Homo sapiens: one gene and its partners. The protein of the gene in region 1 interacts with the protein of each later gene in a pairwise test. Each region holds a gene or a part of one and is shown in the gene's direction. Other genes may lie near its edges.

What was found. Proteins that work in one complex are often made in the same cells at the same time.
Region 2: the proteins of TMEM229B (region 1) and PKMYT1 interact in binary tests that used the Homo sapiens proteins (3 or more experiments, as listed by UniProt).
Region 3: the proteins of TMEM229B (region 1) and SYT2 interact in binary tests that used the Homo sapiens proteins (3 or more experiments, as listed by UniProt).

What each region holds. Positions count from the first base shown.
Region 1 is NC_000014.9:67,471,560-67,479,054, reverse strand, and holds part of TMEM229B (transmembrane protein 229B), read left to right. Parts: intron 1-5,113; 5' UTR 5,114-5,117; coding exon of another isoform or gene 5,118-5,131; coding exon 5,132-5,635; 3' UTR 5,636-7,495.
Region 2 is NC_000016.10:2,977,447-2,985,351, reverse strand, and holds the start of PKMYT1 (membrane-associated tyrosine- and threonine-specific cdc2-inhibitory kinase), read left to right. Parts: upstream 1-4,905; 5' UTR 4,906-5,066; exon of another isoform or gene 5,067-5,133; intron 5,134-5,358; exon of another isoform or gene 5,359-5,439; 5' UTR 5,440-5,694; coding exon 5,695-5,704; exon of another isoform or gene 5,705-7,905. UniProt on the Homo sapiens protein: Acts as a negative regulator of entry into mitosis (G2 to M transition) by phosphorylation of the CDK1 kinase specifically when CDK1 is complexed to cyclins. Mediates phosphorylation of CDK1 predominantly on 'Thr-14'. Also involved in Golgi fragmentation.
Region 3 is NC_000001.11:202,707,455-202,714,762, reverse strand, and holds the start of SYT2 (synaptotagmin-2), read left to right. Parts: upstream 1-4,308; 5' UTR 4,309-4,505; intron 4,506-7,308. UniProt on the Homo sapiens protein: Exhibits calcium-dependent phospholipid and inositol polyphosphate binding properties. May have a regulatory role in the membrane interactions during trafficking of synaptic vesicles at the active zone of the synapse.

The sequences.
Region 1 (7,495 bases):
CAGAAAAATATAAAGAAAAAAAGCACATATGATATCACCATCCAGAGATGATTGTTGTTTAATTTTTTTGTATATGTGCACATATGCATGCCTTTGCAGAATCGGAGTTAGGTTGAATATTCAGTTTTGAATCCTGCTTTTTTCTCTTACCACTATCTTAAACAAGCATTCCTCAGGAGGCTGCTGGTGCTGGCGTTCAGATGAATCCAGTGAAGCAGAGTGCTCACTATTACCACAGAGAAGGGAGGGTGCAGAAGTGGGAAGACAACTCTGGAGTCAGGGTGCTTAGGAAAGTCCTCACAGAGGAGGAGCTGGGTCTTAAAGGAGGGTTCACCGGCCCTGGGTGGGGCCCAGGTAGCAAAAACAGCAAGGTAGAGATCTGGAGGACAGGATTGGAGGCAGGGACGAGTTGTGAAGGGCTTTGCCAGCCGTCCCCAGGGGTTTGAGCTTTATTTACTCTGTAGATGTTGAAGATCCACTCATGGGCTTCAAGTGGTGAGAAACATCGGATTTGCATTTTAGAAAGGTTGCGTTTTTTCTACACACTCTTTCATCCTGTGATGAGTGAATTAGAAGGAAGAAGGCAAAGCTGGGAGACCTTTGGAGTCATCCAGGTGAGACATGATGAGGGCGTGAACCAGAGCAGTGGCAGCAATGAGAAGAGTAATGAAGAGGAGGGGATGGATCCCAAAGATATTTAAGAGGTGGTAAGGGTGGGAGTTAGTAGCTGACTTGGTGGCTTTCCCTTGGCCAGTGGGATGATGGTGGGCATGGCTTAGCCAGGGTCTTGAACCACACTTGTACAGCTAGCCTTGCTCAGCTTTGTGCCTCTGCCCTTGCCATGAGAAGAATATGCCCAGGCAAGTCCACTGGGCCCCGGAGGAGGATGAGAGACAGGTGGAGTGGAGCTACGCTGCCCCAGCCGTCTGCCAACCACAGACATGTGAGCTGTAATAGTAGACGGTAGTTGTTTTAGGCCAGGGTTTTTGAGATGATTTGTTATATGGCGATTGCTAACTAAGAAATGTCTTTATTCTTCTCTTGAATGCTTACTATGTGCTGGGCTTTGTGCCAGGCACTGGGAATACTATGCTGAACCAGGCAGGCAAGGCCCTCACTCTCAGGAACTCATGTTAGGGTGGGGATGTGGCAGAGGAAGCCAGACAGACTTTGAGACCGCTGGTTCTAACTGGGTGCATGGTGGTGCCATTAATTGGGGTGGGGGTCTTAGGAGAGAAACAGGTTTTGGGGAAAAGATAATGGGTTTGATTTTATTTATTTATTTTTTAGAGACAGAGTCTCACTGCATTGTCTAGGCTAGTCTTGAATTCAAGAGTTCTGGGCTCGAGCGATCCTTCTGCCTCTGCCTCCCAAAGTGCTAGGATTACAGGCATAAGCCACCACACCTGCCCATGGGTTTGATTTAGGAAAGGAGTTTGGGATGCCTGTGGGACATTAGGGGGAGCTGTCTAGGGAAGGGCAGGAGCTATAGGTGTAGCACACAGGAAAGAGGTCTGGCCGGGGACAGAAATTCTCAATATAATATTGAAAATAACCTGTAGCAAAGGGAGTGAGACAGAGTAAGTGCTGTAGAAATTCAGAAGAGGAAGAGAAGCCTTGGGACCTGGGGGAATGAAAGAGATTTTGTTCTGAAGGTAACCTGCAAGCTGGTTTATACTCATGGAAGTGAGAGGAGAAAGGCACGCCTAACAGAATGAATAGGACCTGCAAAGGCATGGAGATGAAAGACAGGAAGAGCTGGATTGTGAGGAAAAGGCTGAAGATGTCAATCGGGGCAAGGTCATGAAGAATCTTGAATGGCAGGCCAAGGATGCTGTTGTGTTTCATTAGGAAATAAGGAGATATCGAACATTTTTTTTTTTTTTTTGAGATGGAGTTTCGCTCTTGTTGTCCAGGCTGGAGTGCAATGGTGCGATCGCGACTCACTGCAACCTCCACCTCCCAGGTTCAAGCGGTTCTCCTGTCTCAGCCTCCTAAGTAGCTGGGATTATAGGCGCATGCCACCACATTTCAGCTGAAGCAGGCCTGGTCACATTAATACCTACCCATCCATTGTTTTTTTGTATTTTTAGTAGAGACAGGGTTTCATCATTTTGGTCAGGCTGGTCTTGAACTCCTGACCTCAGGTGATCTGCCCATCTCCGCCTCCCAAAGTGCTGGGATTACAGGCGTGAGCCACTGTGCCCAGCCACTATCGAGCATTTTTGAGCAGGGGAGAGACATTTGGTACGTATGTCTAAGAGATGGGCAGTCATGTGCAGGGGATGAGTTCTGCAGTAGAAAGCAAGAGATATTGGTTCTAATCTCAGCTCTTCCATTTACTGGCCCTGGGATATGGGGTAAATAATGTCCCCTCTCTGAGCTCTGTCTCACTGCAAAAAAATGGGAGTAAAATTTTCTGACCTTCACATGAATCTTTTTTATTTTATTTATAAATATATTTTTTGGAGAGGAAGTCTTGCTCTGTTGCCCAGGCTGGAGTGCAGTGGCATGATCTTGGCTCACTGCAACCTCCGCCTCCTGGGTTCAAGCAATTTTTCTGCCTCAGCCTCCCAAGTAGCTGAGACTACAGGTGCATGCCACCACACCCAGCTAATTTTTGTATTTTTAGTAGAGACAGGGTTTCACCATGTCGGCCAGGTTGTTCTCAAACTCCTGACCTCAGGTGATCCACCCGCCTCAGCCTCTCACAGTTCTGGGATTACAGGTGTGAGCCACTGCGCCCAGCCTGAATTTTAATTATGTAAGAACCATGACAAAATGCGAACGAAGTGCTTGGAAGACCACAGAGCAATGCACAAGGCTGGGTAGGTATTAATGTGACCAGGCCTGCTTCAGCTGAAATGTGAGGCTGGAATTCCCAGACAGGTGTGCATACTACAGATGCCATTTCCTTAACCTCTGTCTTTTCTCCCACCTTGGAGAGGGGATCGACAGAGATGTGAAGCCATTAGCAGCTGGCAGAGCTGGGATTTATGTTCTCAAGCCCTACCTTCCCATTCTTGATGCAGTCCCACACCTCCCTCCACATGAACAGGACATGTCATTTAGAGAGGGCCTGCCCAGGACGGGCCTGCGTCAAGGCCACAAAGCACTGGCCTGTGCAACAGTCACTATCCTCAAGGAGTTCACATGCTAGTTGGATCATGAGAGCACATACCTCAAAAAGCCATTGGGGTGGCACCTGATAATGGGCCAGGTAAGTGGTGCAGACAGTCGCTGGTGGAGGGTGAGGAGAAAGTAGAGAGAAGCAGCATGGGAGCCGGGCGTTGAAGACTGGTGGGGTTTAAAAGAGGGGAGGGGAAAGGAGCCAGAAGGACTGGGGAGGACTCTTTCCTGTGTCAATCCATTGGTTTCCCCTCAGCACTGAAACCAAACACCAAAACCCCATTTAATGGAGCAAAGACAAATGTGACCACAATGAGAGAACCACCTCACACCCATTAGGATGGCCATTATAAAAACAAAACAGAAAATAACAAGTGTTTGGGGTGGATGTGGAGAAATTGGAACCCTTGTACATTGCTGATGGGGAATGTAAAATGGTGTGGCCACTGTGGAAAACAGCACAGTGGTTCCTCAGAAAGTTAACCATAGAATTACCATATGATCCAGTATTTCCACTTCTGCATATGTACTTGAAAGAGTTGAGAGCAGGGACTCAGACAGACCTTTGTACACCCGTGTTCATAGCAGCCTTATTTTGAGTAGCCAAAAGGTAGAAGCAACCCAGGTGTCCATCAATGGATGAATGGATAAACAAAATATGGTGATATATACAATGGAATATGATTCCGCCTTTAAAAGGAAGGAAATTCTGGCTGGGCACAGTGGCTCACGCCTGTAATCCTAGCACTTTGGGAGGCCAAGGCGGGCGGATCACCTGAGCTCAGGGGCTTGTGACCAGCTTGGGCAACATGGTGAAACCTCGTCTCTACTAAAATTCAAAAATTAGCCGGGCATGATGGTGTGTGCCTGTAGTCCCAGCTACTCAGGAGTCTGAGACAGGAGAATCGCTTGAACCCAGGAGGCGGAGGTTGCAGTGAGCCAAGATTGCGCCACTGCACTCCAGCCTGGACGACAGAGCGAGACTCCGTCACAAAAAAAAAAAAAAAAAAAGAAGGAAATTCTGACATGTGCTGCAACATGGATGAACCTTAAAGACATTAGGCTAAGTGAAAGCTAAGCCAGTTATGCTAAGCCAGTCACAAAAGGACAGTGTTTGTATGATTCCACTTATATGAGGCACCCAGAGTAGTCAAATTCATAGAGACAGAAAATAGAATAGTGGTTGCCAGGGGCTGAGGGTATGGGGAATGGGAGTTTGTATTTAATGGATACAAAGTTTCTGTTTGGGACAATGAAAAAGTTCTGGAGATGGTTGGTGGTGACAGTTGCACAACAATGTGAATGTACTTAAGACCACTGAATTGTACACTTACACATGGTTAAAAAATGGCATGCACACACACAAGGACAAATGTGATGAGTCACTTACATCTCAGAAATATGAGTGACATGGAACTGTTTGAGAAGAAGTGGAGGAAGAAATGGGGTCCCCAGTGGATAGGCCTGCTGAGAAATCAGCAAGTAGTCTAGAAATGGGGCTGATTGGTGCAGCAGGCCAGCCGACTCTTCAACTGACCACAGATAATCCAAAAAAGCTCTAGGGAGTACAGACACCTCCCTCTAAGTAGCATTTGGGTAGAGTTGCAGAGAAGTCAGTGGGGTGGGTGGGTTATTCTGTTCTTTGCTCTGTTTTTTTTTTGTTTTGTTTTTTTGGAGACAGAGTCTCACTCTGTCTCCCAGGCTGGAGTGCAGTGGCGCAATCTTGGCTCACTCCAACCTCTGCCTTGCGGGTTCAAGCGATTCTTCTGCCTCAGCTTCCCAAGTAGCTGGGATTACAGGAGCGGGCCACCACGCCAGGCTAATTTTTGTATTTTTAGTAGAGACGGGGTTTCACCATGATGGCCAGGCTGGTTTGGAACTCCTGACCTCAAGTGATCCGCCGCCTCGGCCTCCCAAAGCGCAGGGATTATAGGCGTGAGCCACCGCGCCCGGCCCTCACCTGTCTCTCTTGCGCCCCCCGCAGCCAGCCCCAGTCGGCGCCATGGCGTCTGCCGAGCCCCTGACGGCGCTGTCCCGCTGGTACCTGTATGCCATCCACGGCTACTTCTGCGAGGTGATGTTCACAGCGGCCTGGGAGTTCGTGGTGAACTTGAACTGGAAGTTCCCTGGGGTCACGAGCGTGTGGGCCCTCTTCATCTACGGCACCTCCATCCTCATCGTGGAGCGCATGTACCTGCGGCTGCGCGGCCGCTGCCCGCTGCTCCTGCGCTGCCTCATCTACACGCTCTGGACCTACCTGTGGGAGTTCACCACCGGCTTCATCCTGCGCCAGTTCAACGCCTGCCCCTGGGACTACTCCCAGTTCGACTTTGACTTCATGGGCCTCATCACCCTGGAGTACGCCGTGCCCTGGTTCTGCGGGGCCCTCATCATGGAGCAGTTCATCATCCGCAACACCCTCCGCCTCCGCTTCGACAAGGACGCTGAGCCCGGGGAGCCCAGCGGCGCCCTAGCCCTGGCCAACGGCCATGTCAAGACTGACTGAGCAGGAAGCGGGTGGGGGGCCTGGGGATCTCTCATGGAACTCATGGACAAAGAGACCAAGCTGGTGAGGTTGCCCCATCCATGCAGCAAAAGCCCTGCTCCGGCCAAGCCTCAGCCCTATAGGGCACACAGAGCCCCCTAACGTCCGCGGGGGCCGGTGTTGGGGGGCCGTGGTCAGGTGTTGGGGGATGGGGTGTGGAGGCAGCAGAGGGACATTGGGAAGGGTCCATGGATCGCGGCCCAGTTCAGGGGTTGGTACCAGGAGGCCTGTGGCTGAGCAGCGATGGACTATGTAGTTGACTTTGGAAGCAGCAGGCCCTGTCCTGGCCAAGGGACAATGAGAATGGGGCCGCAGGTGGGAGGCAAGGCCTGACCTCCCTCCCTCCGATCTGGATTTAGTTGAGCTTTGGCTGGTTCCATTAGGCAATATTCAGGTGCTTGCTTGCAACCAATACCTCCCCAGGGGCCTGCTGAGCTGCAGCCGAGGAGAGACTGGGCAGCCAGGAGGCTGCGTGGCAGCAACGCTGGTCTGCAAGGGCTGGGAGACCCTCCCTTGGCTCCTCTCCCCTCCCCCAGGGCCCTGCGCTGCTCCCTTGGCCTTCTGGGGCCCCCGTGGTGCTGGATTCCCACCAACCTTGGGCTTTTGGAGGTTTCAATCCCCGTGTGTTCGGTGGCGTTTCCCCCTTTTCTGTCTTGTTTTCAAAGCCTTTACCACTAGCGGCTCTTTATCCACGTCGGTCGCCACACCTGCCCCACCCCAGCTCCCTAGCCAGCACAGGAGCTGCCGGAGATGAAGCCCTGAGACACCCCCAACCCTCACCCCCTTGCAGCCCTTCCCTCCACTGTTCCGGCTGGCCTGATGCCTGGGGAGTTCCTGAGTTACACCTCCCTACCCCCGGTCTAGTGGGCTGTGGCAGTGCTCCCTTCTCAGTGGCTCAGCTGAGAACAAATGATGCCCTCCAATGCACAGGCAGGCTGGGTTAGGCCCTGTGGATCCACAGTGGGGACCTAGAGGCAAGTCAGTTTGGTGGGGAAAAGCCAGAGTTCTAGGTCATCTATTCCCTGCCTGGTTTATTTTCAAGCCAAAACTGAGCAGTCTAGCTTTCTATGGGATGGAGAAGCCAGGTATCCAGCATTGGAGACTGATGGAGAATGAGAGGAAGAAAGAGAGGAGGACCTTGCAGCTGTGGAAGGCTCCTTGGAGCCTCCTTTGTGGGAGGGTATCAGTTCTGGTTCTGCCAGAGCCTCAGCCCTGGTAGCAGAACCTCAGGGCTGCCCCTCTCCCCAAACTCCTCCCAGCAAGGCTGACCCTTTGAGCTCACTCCTTAAACAGTATTAACCCTGCCACACTCATGGGCATTGGCACCTTGGTTCCCCTGCCCCACTTTGTCCTGTGACAGGTCCATTGCTGGCAGTGGACAGGTGAAATACTCACTCCAGCCTACTTCCGGCTCTGACTCTCACTCCTCAAGGGGAAGGGTCCGTTAGAAAGTGGCCCACCCCATGGTACATGGTCTCTTCTTGACCACACTAGGACTCTTAGGTAGAAATTAGCCTTCCCCTTTTTATGGATCATTACAAAGTGACGGTATCACCTGTGGAGAGAATGTCCTCTTCCCTGCTGGCTGCCCTGCCCATACTGTGCAGGGTGTGGTGGGGTGCAGGGTGTGGTGGGGTGGGCCACAGTTGTGTCCTAGGTCTGGAGAAAAGCTTGCAGACTCTGCCTTTGGCAGGATTTTCTGCAGTTAGCCCCGTCCAGAGCAGAACGAAGGGTATTTCCTAGCCTATTTCCTGGGCAGGCTCCTCAAATCCAGGGATGAACTACTTTCTGCAGTGGCCAGCCCTCCTTTTGATTTTATTG
Region 2 (7,905 bases), on another chromosome or scaffold:
GGAGGCCGAGGTGGGGTGATCACCTGAGGCCGGTAGTTCAAGACCAGCCTGACCACATGGAGAAAACCTGTCTCTACTAAAAATACAAAATTAGCCGGGCGTGGTGGCACATGCCTGTAATCCCAGCTACTCTGGAGGCTGAGGCAGGATAATTGCTTGAACCCGGGAGGTGGAGGTTGCGGTGAGCCGAGATCGCACCACTGCACTCCAGCCTGGGCAACAGGAGTGAAACTCCGTCTTAAAACAAAACAAAACAAAACCAAACCTTATGCAATTCCTTTGGTGTAGTGTCAGAAAAATAAAAGCCTTATGCAAGTGTGGCCAGGCACAGTGCTCATGCCTATAATTCCAGTACTTCAGGAGGCCGAGGCAGGAGGATTGTTTGAGCCCAGGAGCTCGAGACCAGCCTGGGCAACATAATGAGACCCCCGTCTCTACAAGAAATTAAAAATTAGCCAGGGTTGGGTGGTGCACCCCCGTGGTTCCAGCTACTTGGGAGGCTGAGGTGGGAGAATCACTTGAGCTTGGGAGGTTGAGGCTGCAGTGAATCGTGATCATACTATTGCCTGGGCAACAGAGTGAGACCCTGTCTCAAAAATAATCAAAACACAGGCTGGGCGCGGTGGCTCACGCCTGTAATCCCAGCACTTTGGGAGGCCGAGGCGGGTGGATCACCAGGTCAAGCGATTGAGACCATCCTGGCCAACGTGGTGAAACTCTGTCTCTACTAAAAATAAAAAAATCAGCTGGGCATAGTGGTGTGCGCCTGTAATCCCAGCTACTCGGGAGGCTGAGGCCGGAGAATCGCTTAACCCGGGAGGTGGAGGTTGCAGTGAGCCGAGATCGCGCCACTGTACTCCAGCCTGGCAACAGAGCAAGGCTCCGTCTGAAAATAAATAAATAAATAAATAAATAAAATAAAAAACCTTATTCAAGTGTGAAACATAGCATGCAAAGATTAGCACACATGAGATGTGAATGTGCCGTGCAGCTATCGTACTTATGAGACAAACCCCTATGCACCCAGCACCTGGGTCAAGAAGTAGAACATAGCCAGTTCCGCAGAAGCACCCATCACAGTCCCCTTCCTCCCATTAGGATAGCCACGTTTGCACTTGTGGTCGTCATTCCCTCGCTTTTTTTCTTTTGAGACGGAGTCTTGCTCTTGTCGCCCAGGCTGGAGTGCAGTCGCGCCATCTCGGCTCACTGCAACCTCCGCCTCCCGGGTTCAAGCGATTCTCCTGCCTCAGCCTCCTGTGTAACTGGGATTACAGGCGCCCGACACCACGCCTGGCTAATTTTTGTGTTTTTAGTAGAATCGGCGTTTCACCATGTTAGCCAGGCTGGTCTCAAACTCCTGACCTCAGGTGATCCGCTCGTCTCGGCCACCCAAAGTGCTAGGATTACAGGCGTGAGCCACCGCGCCCGGCCTCGCCTTTCCTTTTGTGGCCGAAACCGCATGAGTGAGTCTTCCTTGGAGAGTCTGGGCGGAGCCGCGGGTGCTGTGGCGGCGACGGGACACACGGGGGCGCGCGCGGCCCGCGCCTGGTCGCGCGGGTGGGACTCGCGGGAACCGGGTGCCTGGGCGGCGGCTGGGAGGATTCCTCCTGGAAGGAGGTCGGCAAAGCGCTTTGGTCCGGAACCCTGTGGGCCCGTGCCTCGGTCCCTGTGACCCCAAGGTGGTTAGAGGAGTCCGGGCTTCTTTCCTCCTGGGGCCTCTTTTTGGCCCAGACTGCAGCGTTGAAAACTGCAACAGACTGTACAGATGAGGGGGTCTTACTATTTTATTATTATTATTATTATTATTATTATTATTATTATTATTATTAATTTGAGACCGAGTCTCGCTCTGTCGCCCAGGCTGGAGTGCAGTGGCGCCATCTCGGCACACTGCAGCATCCACCTCCTGGGCTCAAGCGATCCTCCCACCTCACCCTCTTGACTAGCTGGGAGCACAGGTACACACCACCATGCCCAGCTAATTTTTGAATGTTTTGTAGAGACAGGGTTTTGCCATATTGCCCAGGCTGGTCTCTAACTTCTGAGCTCAAGTGACCTGCCCGCCTCAGCCTGCCAAATTGCTGGGATTACAGGCGTGACCACCTCGCCCAGCCTGTTATTCTGAAACAATGAGTAAGCCCCTACTGTGTGTTCGGCTCTGTGCTAAGCACTTCACAGGCATTTTCTCATGTGGTGCTCATACTCCCCGAGGAAGGAGGAACTACTATTATTATCACTTTATATTTTTTACAGGGTCTCACTCTGTTGCCCAGGCTCACTGCAGCCTTTTTTTTTTTTTTTTTTTTTGAGACAGAGTCTCGCTCTTGTCACCCAGGTTGGAGTGCAGTGGTGCGATGTGGGCTCACTGCAACCTCTGCCTCCCAGGTTCAAGCAATTCTGCCTCAGCCTCCCGAGTAGCTGGGATTACAAGCGCCTGCCATCACACCCAGCTAATTTTTGTATTTTTAGTAGAGAAGGGGTTTCACCATATTGGCCAGCCTGGTCTCGAACTCCTGAGCTCAAGTGATCCACCTGCCTCAGCCTCCCAAACTGCTGGGGTTACCAGCATGAGCCACTGCACCCGGCCCTCACTGCGGCCTTTAACTCCAGGGATCAAGTGATCCTCCTACTCCAGCCTCCTGAGGAGCTGGGACTACAGGTGTGTACCACTGTGCCTCACTGCTTTATTTCTTCTTTCTTTTCTTTTTTTCTCTCCCTTTCTTTCCTTCCTTCCTTTCCTTTCCTTTCTTTCTTTCTCTTTTTCTTTCCCTTTCTTCCCTTCCTTTTCTTTCTTTTTTCTTTCTTGAGACAGGGCCTTGCTATGTTGCCTAGTCTAGAAAACTATTATTTTTATCCCCATTTTACACACGCAGAAACTGGGGCAGGCAGGATCGCAGCCCTAGTTTCCCTCACACCACGCACTTATCTGCTCCATCTACTTATTTCCATTTACATATATTTATATTACAGCCTTTCCTCACACAGTGAAATTTACATCGGAAGCATGTGTTTCCATGCTTTTTTTTTTTTTTTTTTAATTATCATTGTGAATCAGACTTTAAAAAATGGGCGGTTGGAAGGGGACCTGTTGGGGAGATGGGGCTGGCAGAGGTAGCCCTAGGCAGCTGGGGAGGGGCCTGTGTGTGCCCCAGGCCTCCTGGGGGCCAGTCTGGAGTCATCAACAAGGATCCTGCCTGAGTCACTGGGGCACAGCCGCCAGAGATGCGAAGGACAAGGAAAGGTGCAGGCAGGTGGGCTGCCGCCCCCAGCCAGGATCCCAGCCTCTCCTCCCCCACACTGCTGCTCCATGCACAGAACGTTTACAGAGGGTGCAGGAACTGAATGGGTGGGAAGCTTTGCAGTCCATGACCTGTCAGAGACTTGGGGAGGATGGAGGGTTTGGGGGACTGGTTCTGGAGGCCAGGGCTAGAAGGAGCAGGTAGTCAACAAGTAAACTCACAAACAAAAGATAGAACATCGGACAGAGATCAGGGCAATAGCAAAAATAAGGCGGAAGGAGAGGTGAGAGTGAGAAGGCCAGCGTTTGGGGGAGGGTTGGCCGGAAGCGTACTCCTCCCACCCAGTTAAACAGATAAAGAGCCCCTCGGTGAGGGAAGGAACAATCCCTAGCCCGACTTGCTCCGCGAGGGCCCCTGCTAATCACTTTAGGGGATCATCCCAGCGTCCTCAGCTGTTTTTTTTTTTCCAGGAGAGGAGACTAATCCGAAGCTCAGAAAGGCTCAGTGCATTCCCAAGGTCGTTCAGCCAGGAGAGCGCTGAAGGGATCTGAGCTGAGAGCAAGTCTCAAACTCAGAGAATGGAGGAGCTGCCCCGGAAGTGGCTGCTCGAGGCTGCAGTGAACTATGATCCTGCGGCCAATCGCGGTGGCTCACGCCTGTAATCCCAGCCTTCTGGGAGGCCGAGGCGGGCGGATCGCTTGAGGTCAGAAGTTCGACACTAGCTTGGCCAACATGGTAAAACACCGTCTCTACAAAAAAATGCAAAAATTAGTTGGGTGTGGTGGCGCGCGCCTGTGGTCCCAGCTACTCAGGAGGCTGAGGTGGGAGGAACGCTTGAGCGGGGGAGGCGGAAGTTACAGTGAGTCGAGATCGCCCCACTGCACTCCAGCCTGGACAACAGAATGAGACCCTGTCTAAAAATAAAATACATGAGCCGAGTGCGGTGGCGCGCGCCTGTGATCTCACATACTCGGCAGGCTGAGGTTGGGAGAACCGCCTGAACCTGGGGACTGCACCACTGCATTCCAGCCTTGGTGACAGTGAGACCCTGTCTAAAAAAAAAAAAAAAAGTATCTGAGGCCTGTTGGCAGGGAAGCTGCAGGCAGGCGAGGTCAGGCCAAGCAGAGTCCTGCCTATCTGGAGAGCTTCCTGGAAGAGGCGGCTTTTTCTGGCTCCCGAAGCCGTGCGCTAGGGGTTGGGGGTCGTGCGTCTGGCCTCCCACCGCGACCCTGGTTCAGAACACGGCCGGAGTGAGAAGGGGGGTGCCGGGACCCAGGAGGCCGTAGGGACTTCCTGGTCCTACCCGGAGTAACCCTGGGGCTACGCCTGCTCCGAGCACCGGGATGGCGGTCCCTTTTATGGACCCAAACACTACGCCAGCCCAGCGAGGGCGGTGGGTGTCGGGTGCGAGGCCTGGAGGGCAGTGGGCGTCCCAGGGACTGGGCGGCTGAAGCCCCGCGCAGCGACTCAGAACCAGGCCGCCACCCACGCCCCGGGCCAGCGCGGAGAATCCTGTGCGCCTGCGCAGTGAGCGGCGGGGCGGCTCGGCGGCGCGCACGCAGCACGAGGGGCGGAGCCTCGGAGCCCGGGCACCCCTGACGGGCTGCACTGGGGAGGGGGAGGAGCCTCGAGGCCGGTTTGGAATTTTTGGCGCGAGCAGCTCCGCGCGCGTTCACGGGCCGTTCCCCCTCACGGGAGTCCTCCGCCCGGGCGTCCGGAACAGTCGACGGCAGACTCCGGCCCGCTGAGCCACCCGAGGGGTCCCGTGGCCTCCGCGGACCCGGAATCTGGGCCCTCGCGGACCCGCGCCCCGCCCAGTCGCCCCAGGTGAGCCCAGACCCCGCCGTGAGGGGCCTCGGCGTGGCCACCTCGCCGCTCCCCTCCGCCTCGCCAGGTCTGCGTTACCCCTGCCCCTCAGGCCTCCCCGGCGGCCCGCTCGCGTCCCCTCAGGCCCGCCCCCGCGAGCCCCTGCCTCCCGTCCTCCCCAATTCCTGGTTCCCTTGCCTCGAGCCCCTTCCCAGCGGCGGTCCCGCCCTACTCGCCCCTCCCGGAGACCCCGCCTGCTGTCCATCAACCCCGCGCCGCCGCCCTCCCCGTGACAGTCCTTCCTCCGTGACAGCCCCTGCCCCGGGACAGCCTCTCTTCTTCTGCAACAGCCCCTCTTCCCTCGTGACAGCCCGTCCACTGCTCTGTTCGCCAGGGCTTCCCCACACCCACGGAGTGAAGTCAGCCGCGGCCCTGCCTGGGAGGAACTTACCGTCTACCGGGAAAGGTGGCCAGCAGATGTGTCGGGCCTGGTGAGAGGGTGAGGCGAGACGGCCCGATCGCCCAGGGCCCCGGAAGCTGCGGAGGTCACCCCCGCCTGGCCTTAGCTCAGGGACACCCTGGATTCACGTGGGAGCCCCTGCTCCTGCCTCCCCCGTCCCACCACTGAGGCTGTTGGGCCAGGCCAGTCATGCTAGAACGTAAGTCGTAGGGCAGGGACGGTGGGAGAACTGGGTTAAGATGCACAGGCCCAGGTCCCCGAGTGTGCCAGGGTTGGGCCTGGAGGCTGTGCTTGTGACCAGTGACCTCCAGGATCCCAACACCCTGGCTCCTGACTTGGAGAAACCCTGGGCTGGGACTCTGAGGTAGTTAGAGTCAGAGGAAGAGTCTCCACAAGATGGAGGGCAGCCTGCCAGCCAGGCCCAGGTAGCATCGCTCCCCTCACCCCTGTACTCCCTCAGGTACTGGAGACTGCTCTTTTTAATTTTTTATTTACTATTATGTATATTTTTTTGAGATGGAGTTTTGCTCTTGTCGCCCAGTTGGAGTGCAATGCCGCAATCTCGGCTCACCGCAACTTCCACCTCCTGGGTTCAAGCATTTCTCCTGCCTCAGCCTCTGAGTAGCTGGGACTACAGGCATGCACCAGCACGCCCGGCAAAAATTTGTATCTTTAGTAGAGATGGGGTTTCACCATGTAGGCCAGGCTGGTCTCGAAGTCTTGACCTCAAGTGATCCACCCACCTTGCCTCCCGAAGTGCTGGGATTACAGGCGTGAGCCACCACACCCAGCCGCTCTATTGTTTTTTATAATACTTTGGTGCACCAGCCTCACCAACATGGTGAAACCACATCTCTACTAAAAATATAAAAATTATTCTAGTGTGTTGGCACACGCCTGTAATCCCAGCTACTCAGGAGGCTGAGGCAAGAGAATTACTTGAACCTGGGAGTCGGAGGCTGCAGTGGGCCGAGATCATACCACTGCACTCCAGCCTGGGCAACAGAGTGAGACCCTGTCTCAAAAACAAACAAACAAACAATACCTTGGGGCATAAAGTGTTCCACGGTCCAATCCAATTAAATTTTTTTTTTTTTTTGAGACAGAGTCTCGCTCTGTTGCCCAGGCTGGAGTGCAGTGGCATGATCTTGGCTCACTGTAATCTCTGCCTCCCAGGTTCAAGCAATTCCCCTGCCTCAGCCTCCCGAGTAGCTGGGACTACAGGCATGCACCACCACACCCAGCTAATTTTTGTATTTTTAGTAGAGATGGGGTTTCACCATGTTGGCCAGGCTGGACTCGAACTCCTCACCTCAGGTGATTTACTCACCTCAGCCTCCTAAAATGCTGGGATTACAGGCATGAGCCACTGTGCCTGGCCAGATCCAATTAATTTTGAGCTCCTTTGACAGGGTGGCTTTTGAGGTCAGTGAGGTTTGTTCTGACAGCAGGCAGGCTCTTCCTAGCTAGCTCTTTCTCCACTTCTCTGTGGTAAACTAGCTGGCCTATGGTTCAGCTGGTTGCCCTAATGCGGGTACCAGTCTCTTCTTAATGGCGCACCACCAAAACTTCCACTGATTTTGACAGCCCCTTTAAACTTGAACTTCCCTACGCACTGTTTCAAATCAAGCCAATTTTCAGGGGGTTGGTGGGTGGGGAGAGCTCTATTTATGACCTACGTCTACCCCTAGGCTAAATCTCTGTCTGAGCCATGCTGTGGAACTGGGGGCAGGACAGCGGGGCACCTCTCTGAGTGCTGCTATTGCTTTAGGAGCAGGTCGCTGGGTTGGGCAGGAGCCTCTGGCCTTCTTGGTTGCCCTCTCCCAGTGTGGAGCCTCCTTCCTACAAATGAGCTGGGGCTCCATGTTCCCAGCCTGCCGGGCCTGAGATATAGCCTCTATTCTATGCTTGGGGGCAGGTGGAAGAAAGGAGCCCCTGGCCTGTCTGCCACACTCAGCTGGAATTTAGCCTCTGCCATGTGGAGCTGGGAGGGTTGAGAAGTGCTGAGAACCTGGCCCTCCTGGGCAAACACCCTAACCCTTGACGGGGAGCTGGGGGAGAGGGAGCCCTTCTTCTTGGCCACACCTGCCCCCAGTGCTAGGCGGGGGGAGAGGGGTGCTGGAGGTGGGAGGGCAGGAGTGTCATGGCTCAGGTGCCAACAGGCTTGCCATTATTCCCAGGCCTTGGCAGGTTTTCTTGTGTAAACCTTTGTTTGCTGTGTGCCCTGGGCACCATGCCCAGAGGCTTTCAGTGCTTGCTTTTGAATAATCGTCATCAGTTGTGCTGTTTCACTGGGGCAGGGGTCCACGGAGCTGCACACACTGCCATTCTGGAAGTGGACACCACTAACTGGGTTTTGGCACGACAGTTATGAAAAAGAAAGACACTTGAGGGATTCCG
Region 3 (7,308 bases), on another chromosome or scaffold:
TGATTTCTTTCCCCACATCTGATCAGTTCATGTCTTCTGTATTGAAAGCATTCTGAGGTCAGGCTCAGTGGCTCACGCTTGTAATCCCAGCACTTTAGGAGGCCGAGACGGGAGGATCGCTTGAGTCTGGGAATTCAAAACCAGCCTGGGCAACATAGAGAGACCCTATCTCTACACAGAATTAAAAAATTAATGGGGCATGGTGGTGCACACCTGTAGTTCCAGTTACTAGGGAGGCTGAGGCAGGAAGATCACTTGAGCCTCAAGGCTGCAGTGAGCCCTGATTGTGCCACTGCACTTCAAACTGGGTGACAGAGCAAGACCCCCATCTCAAAATAAATAAATAAATAAATAAATAAATAAATAAATAAATAAAGTAAAATAAAGAAAAGAATTTAAAAAAAGTATATTATGGGATATCTAAAAGTTGACTGTAGAATGAAATATGTTATTATTATTTTTTTGAGATGGAGTTTCACTCTTGTTGTCCAGGCTGGAGTGCAGTGGCACAATCTCAGCTCTCTGCAGCCTCTGCCTCCCGGGCACAAGGATTCTCCTGCCTCAGCCTCCCGAGTAGTTGGGATTACAGGCGCCTGTCACCATGCCTGGCTAATTTTTGTATTTCTAGTAGAGACGAGGTTTCACCATATTGGCCAGGCTGATCTCGAACTCCTGACCTCAGGTGATCTGCTTGCTTCAGCCTCCCAAAGTGCTGGGATTACAGGCGTGAGCCACTACACCTGGCCAGACATATATTATTGAAGAGTAAGTAGTATAATGGTTATAAACACTGAGCAGGGCCTTAGCAAAATAGGTAGCTACTATCATGTGGCTTAGGGAAATGAAAATAGCTCAGTGGAGCTAGAGTATAGGTAGTATAGGGTAATTTAAATAAAAGTTAAAGTATATTTAAGCTTGGTATGTCTACAAAATTAGATTAAAAGAAGAAAACCAAGACCTTTAGTGATAGGAATTGCATGTAATTTTTTTTTTTTTTTTTTTTGAGACGGAGTTTCACTCTTGTTGCCCAGGCTGGAGTACAGTGGCATGATCTCGGCTCACTGCAACCTCCGCCTTCTGGTTTCAAGCGATTCTCCTGCCTCAGCCTCCTGAGTAGCTGGGATTACAGGCACCCACCACCACACCTGGCTAATTTTTGTATTTTTAGTAGAGGTGGGGTTTCACCATGTTGGCCAGGATGGTCTCAAACTCCTGGCCTCGCGATCTGCCCGCCTCAGCTTCCCAAAGGGCTAGACTTATAGGCGTGAGCCACTTTGCCCAGCTGTAAGTTTTAAAGAACCATTTACTCAGTTACAACCAGTAAAGCAGGCGTGTTTCAGAGGAGAGTTTAGTCATTGTTTGCTTAATTGTCAGGAACAATACAAACTGCTCTGGAAGAATAATACGGGTATGTGCAGGGGGTGGGAGGGCAAGAACAACAGCTTTCTGAAGGGGTGTTTGTTTCTGTGTGTATCAAGAGAAAGCAGGAAATGGGAGCTGGCTAGGTCAGCGGTGATGAAGACTCTCTCTCCTGTCCCAGCTCATTTCTGTTTGCTCTAACTATGACAGCAGGGCTTGGAACAAGTTTGCAGGGATGAAGGCCTGACCAGAACATCAGGGAAACAATCCAAGTGTGAGGTAGTGCAAGTGCTAGTAGACCTATGATCAAGGATGGACAAAAAGGGAATTCTTTAAGCAGAAGGTGGGTGGCAGGCAGGAAAAGTACAGGGGCTTTCAGTCCCCAGGGAAAGCTGTGACAGGGGCACGATGCAGCAGCTCCCTGCTCTCTTCTCTCTCCTCCCTAGAAAAAAACAGAAAATGAAGCCACCAGGAAGCACACTATTCAGCAGAAAGTGGTAAAACAATGTAATTGAGGGAGTTGTAGACTTTCTTCCTGAAAAACGCTCAGTGTTAGATAGCTCTCCCCCACCTTTTGTGGGTTCAAAATGACCTTGTGTGGAAGCAGAGGGATTGCCCTGATGGCCCTGCATGTGCATGCAATTGAGTGATGCTGGTCTAAGATACTAGAGGCTCATCTTTCTACAATGATGAACAGTTGAAAAGCAAAGTATCTAATAATAGGCTGGGTGTGGAGGGGGTGGATGTCTTTTCCATTCTTTCCTCTTCCAGCTCCTGAAGCCTGGGGGAATAAGCAAGAGGGATGTTGAGCTCTTGATTAGGTTTGTAACCCAGACACTACTGGTCCTGATGAATTAAAAGAACATTAAGGCTGTAGCCAGCGACACCACATTTTTCATTTAACCAAATTGATTACAGCTCTGACTCTCCTAATAGCCTGGGAAGGCAGGCTGGCTTCCTCTGACGTGCTTAGGAGAAGAAGCTGGGGCACCAGATTGACACAAGGCTTTGATCAGAACAGTAGGCAGCTGAGTCTGCTGCCGTGGAAAAGTTGAAGCGCATCAGGCCAGTTCGCTTGGCTTGATTCTGTGCGAGGGGGCTGCAGCCCTCTTTCTGGCTGGAGTCCTGCAGATACTGGTTGTTGGCATGGGGAGCAGGAAGGAATGAATAGAGTAGAGCCAGCCCCTTTGGGGAAGCAACAAGTCCTGGAACACACCTGGCTAAGGGTGGGGGTGGTGGGTAACCTCTTTGAATGTAAAGGTCTCATTAGTCCATTGTAACTTGGCTCCCCATTTCCTCCACTGCCCTTGTTCTGGCTGCTCCACAGGTGAAGGGGGAGGGCCTCTGTGCCTCAGGGGCTGTGAGCACAGCTTCAGCCTGATTGAGGACTCCCCAGAGGTCTTCCCCCACCTTTTTCGTAACATCCACTGAGTCGGCAGCCACTTGCCGCCTTGCTCTGAGGCAAGCCAAACTGGGGATAGTCTCCAACTGGGGATGGTCTGCCAGTAACACCTGGTATTATTGGCACAGTGATCTGAAAAGTGCCCTCCACTGCCTCTTCTCTCCCCAAAGCCTGAATCCCACTTGTTCTTTGCATCTCCTCATATTGCATTCATTCCACCTCTCACTCACTCACCTAGTACGTATTGAAGACTGACCTCAGGCCATGTACGGTTTTGTACCCAAAAGCGAGGCAGGATGCTACAGTCCTATTATAAAAGTTAACTCCAGGCCAAGCGCAGTGGCTCATGCTTGTAATCCCAGCACTTTGAGAGGCTGAAGTGGGTGGATCCCTTGAGGTCAGGAGTTCGAGACTAGCCTGGCCAACATGGCAAAACCCCATCTCTACTAAGAATACAAAAATTAGCCGGGTGTGGTGGCGCACGTCTGTAATCCCAGCTGCTCGGGAGGCTGAGGCGGGAGAATCCCTTCAACCCAGGAGGCAGAGGTGGCAGTGAGCCAAGATCGCGCCACTGCACACTGCACTGCAGGTTGGGTAACAGAGTGAGACTTGTCTAAAAAAAAAAGAAAAAAAAAAGTTAACTCCAAAAGAGTTAAAGCGGATATTCAAATTGTGCTGTAAGGAAGTTCTGGTGCTGCCCTGGCAGCTCCTGGGTAGGTTAGGAAGGGCTCTGTTTTGCCCTTGCCACCCTTCTCTTTCTCCCAGGCTCTTCCGAAATGCCACCACTTAACTGTCTGCAGCTCCTTGGTCCAACGCACCATTCAGGGACTGTTTCCCCACCTGCAAACTGCCCACGCAAAATGCCCACCTTAAAGGGATGTCTTACGTATTAAGCAAACTAACATGTGTGAACACCCTGTCTTTAATAACCAGTAGCGTCCTCCTTTTCTTTCTACCGTCTTCCAGCTCCTCTCTCCTTGTCACCCTGCAGTTCTTACTCTCCCCTCCGCTGTTCTATTTCCATAGGCCTCAGGCACCGCTGTCTTCTCTCAAGCATCCTCCTCTCTCTCACCCAACCTTTAGGCTCAGAAGCCCCCACCATCCAGGTGGCCAATATAGGTAGCGGTGACCTAAGCGGAGAGGGGAGGAGGGGAGGCTAGGGGCTCAGGGATCCCAAAATGGCCATGGGGATGGGGGCTCCTGAGCCCAATAATTTAGCCTTGAGCTGCAGTGGGTTCGGGAAGTTGGAGAGAAGGAGCTGGCTAGAAAGGAGACCAGCCTTCTGGGGTGGGGAGTATAGAGCTCCTTTCCAGTCCGCCTTCCTGCTGGGGAAGCAGCCTCCTTGACCTTGAGCAGGAGGCGGGGGCGCCGAGCGCCTGGGGGGCTGCGCAGAAAGAACCCGTCCCGGGGGGCAGGCCCGCCCTCCGCCTCCTCCGGGCCTCCTCCGCCTCGGTCCCCGCCCTCCCACGCCGCTTGGTCTCCTCCCCTCACTGCAGCGCTCGCCGCGCGCGCCCATCGATCAGGCCCCCTCCCTCTGCCGCCTCGGCGCAGACTGCTAAGCTCAGCAAGTCTTGCGGCAAAGGCACTTCGGAGCCGAGTTGGGGCAGCGGTGGAGCGGGGACTTCGCGCCCCCAGGGGAACGGGCGCCCCTGCGAAACCGTCGCCAGCCACGCGTCCTTGCCGTCCGACGCCCCCTCACATTGGAGACCCCGGATCTCTCCCGCCTCCTTCGGGTCGCTCTCCGGTAAGTCCATACCCCCGCCGGTGGGGGCACGGACCTCCCTCTCCAAAGTTTCTCCTTTCCTGCTACTGAGTCGAGGGGCCACGGGGTGGTCTGGGTCCCGAGAGGTGAGTAGGGTTGGGGAAGTTTGAGGCCAAGGGGGCCGGGAGTCTGCCCCGTCCTTTGGGGGAGTTTGGAAGCGTCCGGATGGAAGGTTCGTCTCGGGGAGTCGGACCCGAGGGGCGAGGAGCCGGCTCCTCTGAGGGACTGGGGCTGGGCTGGGGGCAGATTTCCTCCCGCGGGTTGCTGCAGAGAGGGGCGGGCCACGCGTCCCCTGCACCGGCCGGCTCTGCGCCCCCGTCCCTCTCTCCTTTCCCTGGGACGAACCCACTCGCGTCTAGCCCAGCCCCCGCCAGCCCTAGCGGTCTCCAAGGAAGGTTCTTTTGCCCCAGTCTCAAGCTTCGGGGACCCCTGGCACCGCCGTCGTGGGAAGTGGGGCGGGGGGTGGGGTCTGGGCGCTGGGAGCCGGAGACCCTGGGTCAGGGAGAGGTTGGGGAGACAGACTGCAGGGGCCATCTGGAAGCAACGGGCACGAGGAGCTGGGGCAGGGGCCCAAGAAGGGGCTGGAGGCGCCCCTCCCCTCTCTCCAAATCTCATGACTCAGCACGACCTAGGACGCCCCGTCCCTGCTTCAGCTCTGTCCCCAAGGGCTAGGCTCGCAGCCTGGCGGGTGCTGACAGCCCGACTCCCTTTTCTGGACTCTTCCATGTACCTTTCCCATTTGGGGTGCCCCCTTCCCCTGCCTATGCTCCTTCCCCCACCTCTGGGGCACAGGGCTTTTATTTTTCAACTAAAAAGTGGAGCTTTATCGTTTCACATCCCACTAAGCCAGGCCCCCTCATCCTGTCTCCTCCCTTTTCATCCCCACATTCCACAGGTGCCTCCAGGACACCCCCAGCCCATGGCTCGTGGGGTGTCTCCTGGCAGGGCAGTGTCCTCCCTTACCCCTGGCTGAGGTGGCAGAGTAGGTGCTCTCCCCGCAGCAGGAGAAGGGAGTGCAAGGACAGAAGAGGTGCTGGCCCAGGAGGGGCCACTGCAGTGGGGAGGGAAGGGCAGAGGCCCCGTGGGCAGGTAGTACAGGTTGAGTTAGCTTATAAGGAGGAGGAAGTCCTTAGGATCTGGGGGCGCCCAGGAAGCCAGAAAGGTGAACTGGGGTCTGACCTGGAAAGCAAAAGGGTGCCCTTCTCCCTCCCCTACTGCTGCCGCCCTGCGGGGCCTCTCCCAGGTGGAATAGATTGTCCTCCATCCAATCTGTCTGGATCCCCATAACCTGGCACTTCATTAGAGGGGGTGACAGAAGCAGGGAAGCCCTTAATCCTTTCAACCATCTCTCCCTACTTAAGACTAAGTCCAGCTTTGGGGCTGCTAGAAACATCTCTGTGACCAGCAGAGGTGCTGAAAAAAGCCATGCCCAGTGCCCCAAAGGCGGGCCCGAGTGGCAGGTGGAAGGGGGCAGGGTGGCTCTGATGCAGTGGGACGTGCCTGGCATCCTGGTCCTGTGGAATGAGAGTGGTGGTCTGGCAGGCACTGCAAGCTGCAGCGTGTGTCAGGGCCCTGGGGGTGAGTCAGCGTCAGGGGTCCACGCCAGGCACACTGCAGCCTAGGGAGTCCAACTCCAACCCATCTCCTCCCATGCCCCTGGAAAATGGCCAGTGCCCACTGAACCCCGACTGAACCACCTTTCCCTCAGGGTGGCTGCCTCTGCTCTGCTTGGCTGCCAGGCAGATCCCTGGCTTCACCCTCTAGGACTCCCCCCAGAGGCTTGGCTTTTTCTGGAGATCTTTTGGGCTTAATCCTTACCTTCTCCCCTCCTTGTCTTGCCAAAGGAGGAGGAGAGGGAGGCAGAGGAAAGTTTCTAGGTTATAGCCTCACATAGACCTGGCCCACCATTCCCTGGAGGAAGAGAGACCAGACCACTCTGCTGGGAGTCTGCTTTGTTCTGCAGTCCAGGAGCTTGGTCCAGGGAACTTGGGTTTTCTTTTGGGGGAAGGGGGTGATTATGCAGGAACATTTCTTTTTCAGCTTTGGGGTCTGACATCCGCAGAACAGGACCAGGGGAAGCAAAAAGTGTTGGTGTTCGTAAACATTGACTTTTCACCTAGAGAAGCTTGCAACTGGCTTCAATTTAGGACTGAAGCTGGTTTCACCTGGGCAAAGCATGTACCTTGCTGAAGACCTCGCAGGGCCGAGGAGACCCTTTCTGGAGCTGGGTCTGGGCTCACCTGCCCTCACATTGCAGCTGGAGCTCGTTTTATTCCTTCTACCCTTAGGCAGCTTCCAGGCAGGTGTGACAGGGCTGTCTATGATACTGCAGAGACCTGGGGGTGGGCTTTGGAGGTGGCTGGAGAAGCCTCTTCCTTGCCCTTCTCAAGCCCTGGGGACCAGGCTACCCCAGTGTTCCCCAGCCCCTAGGCAAGCCTGACCTCTAGTCATTCTTTCTGCCTCCATCTGAACATTATCATATCTCAATGGGGTCTCCTTTTTCTTCCCCGCCAGGCCTGTGCCGCCCTCTCAGGGGAGAGTAGATAGAGGGGCAGTGAGTGCACTGGAAGCAGGGGGACAGAAGGCAGTGAGGACAGAGTGGGAGGAGGTTGGGCTTCATTTGCCTGGAAGAATGACCATCATTCCCTTCCCTGGACAGAAGCATCCTCGTGGAGGACTTAAGGCTGCAGATGAGTAGAAACACTACTTCACTTGGCTTTGGGATTTGCTCTGTGGACTTCCCCAGTCTAGGCAGGTCCTAGCTGAAGCCAGAGTATCCCCACCA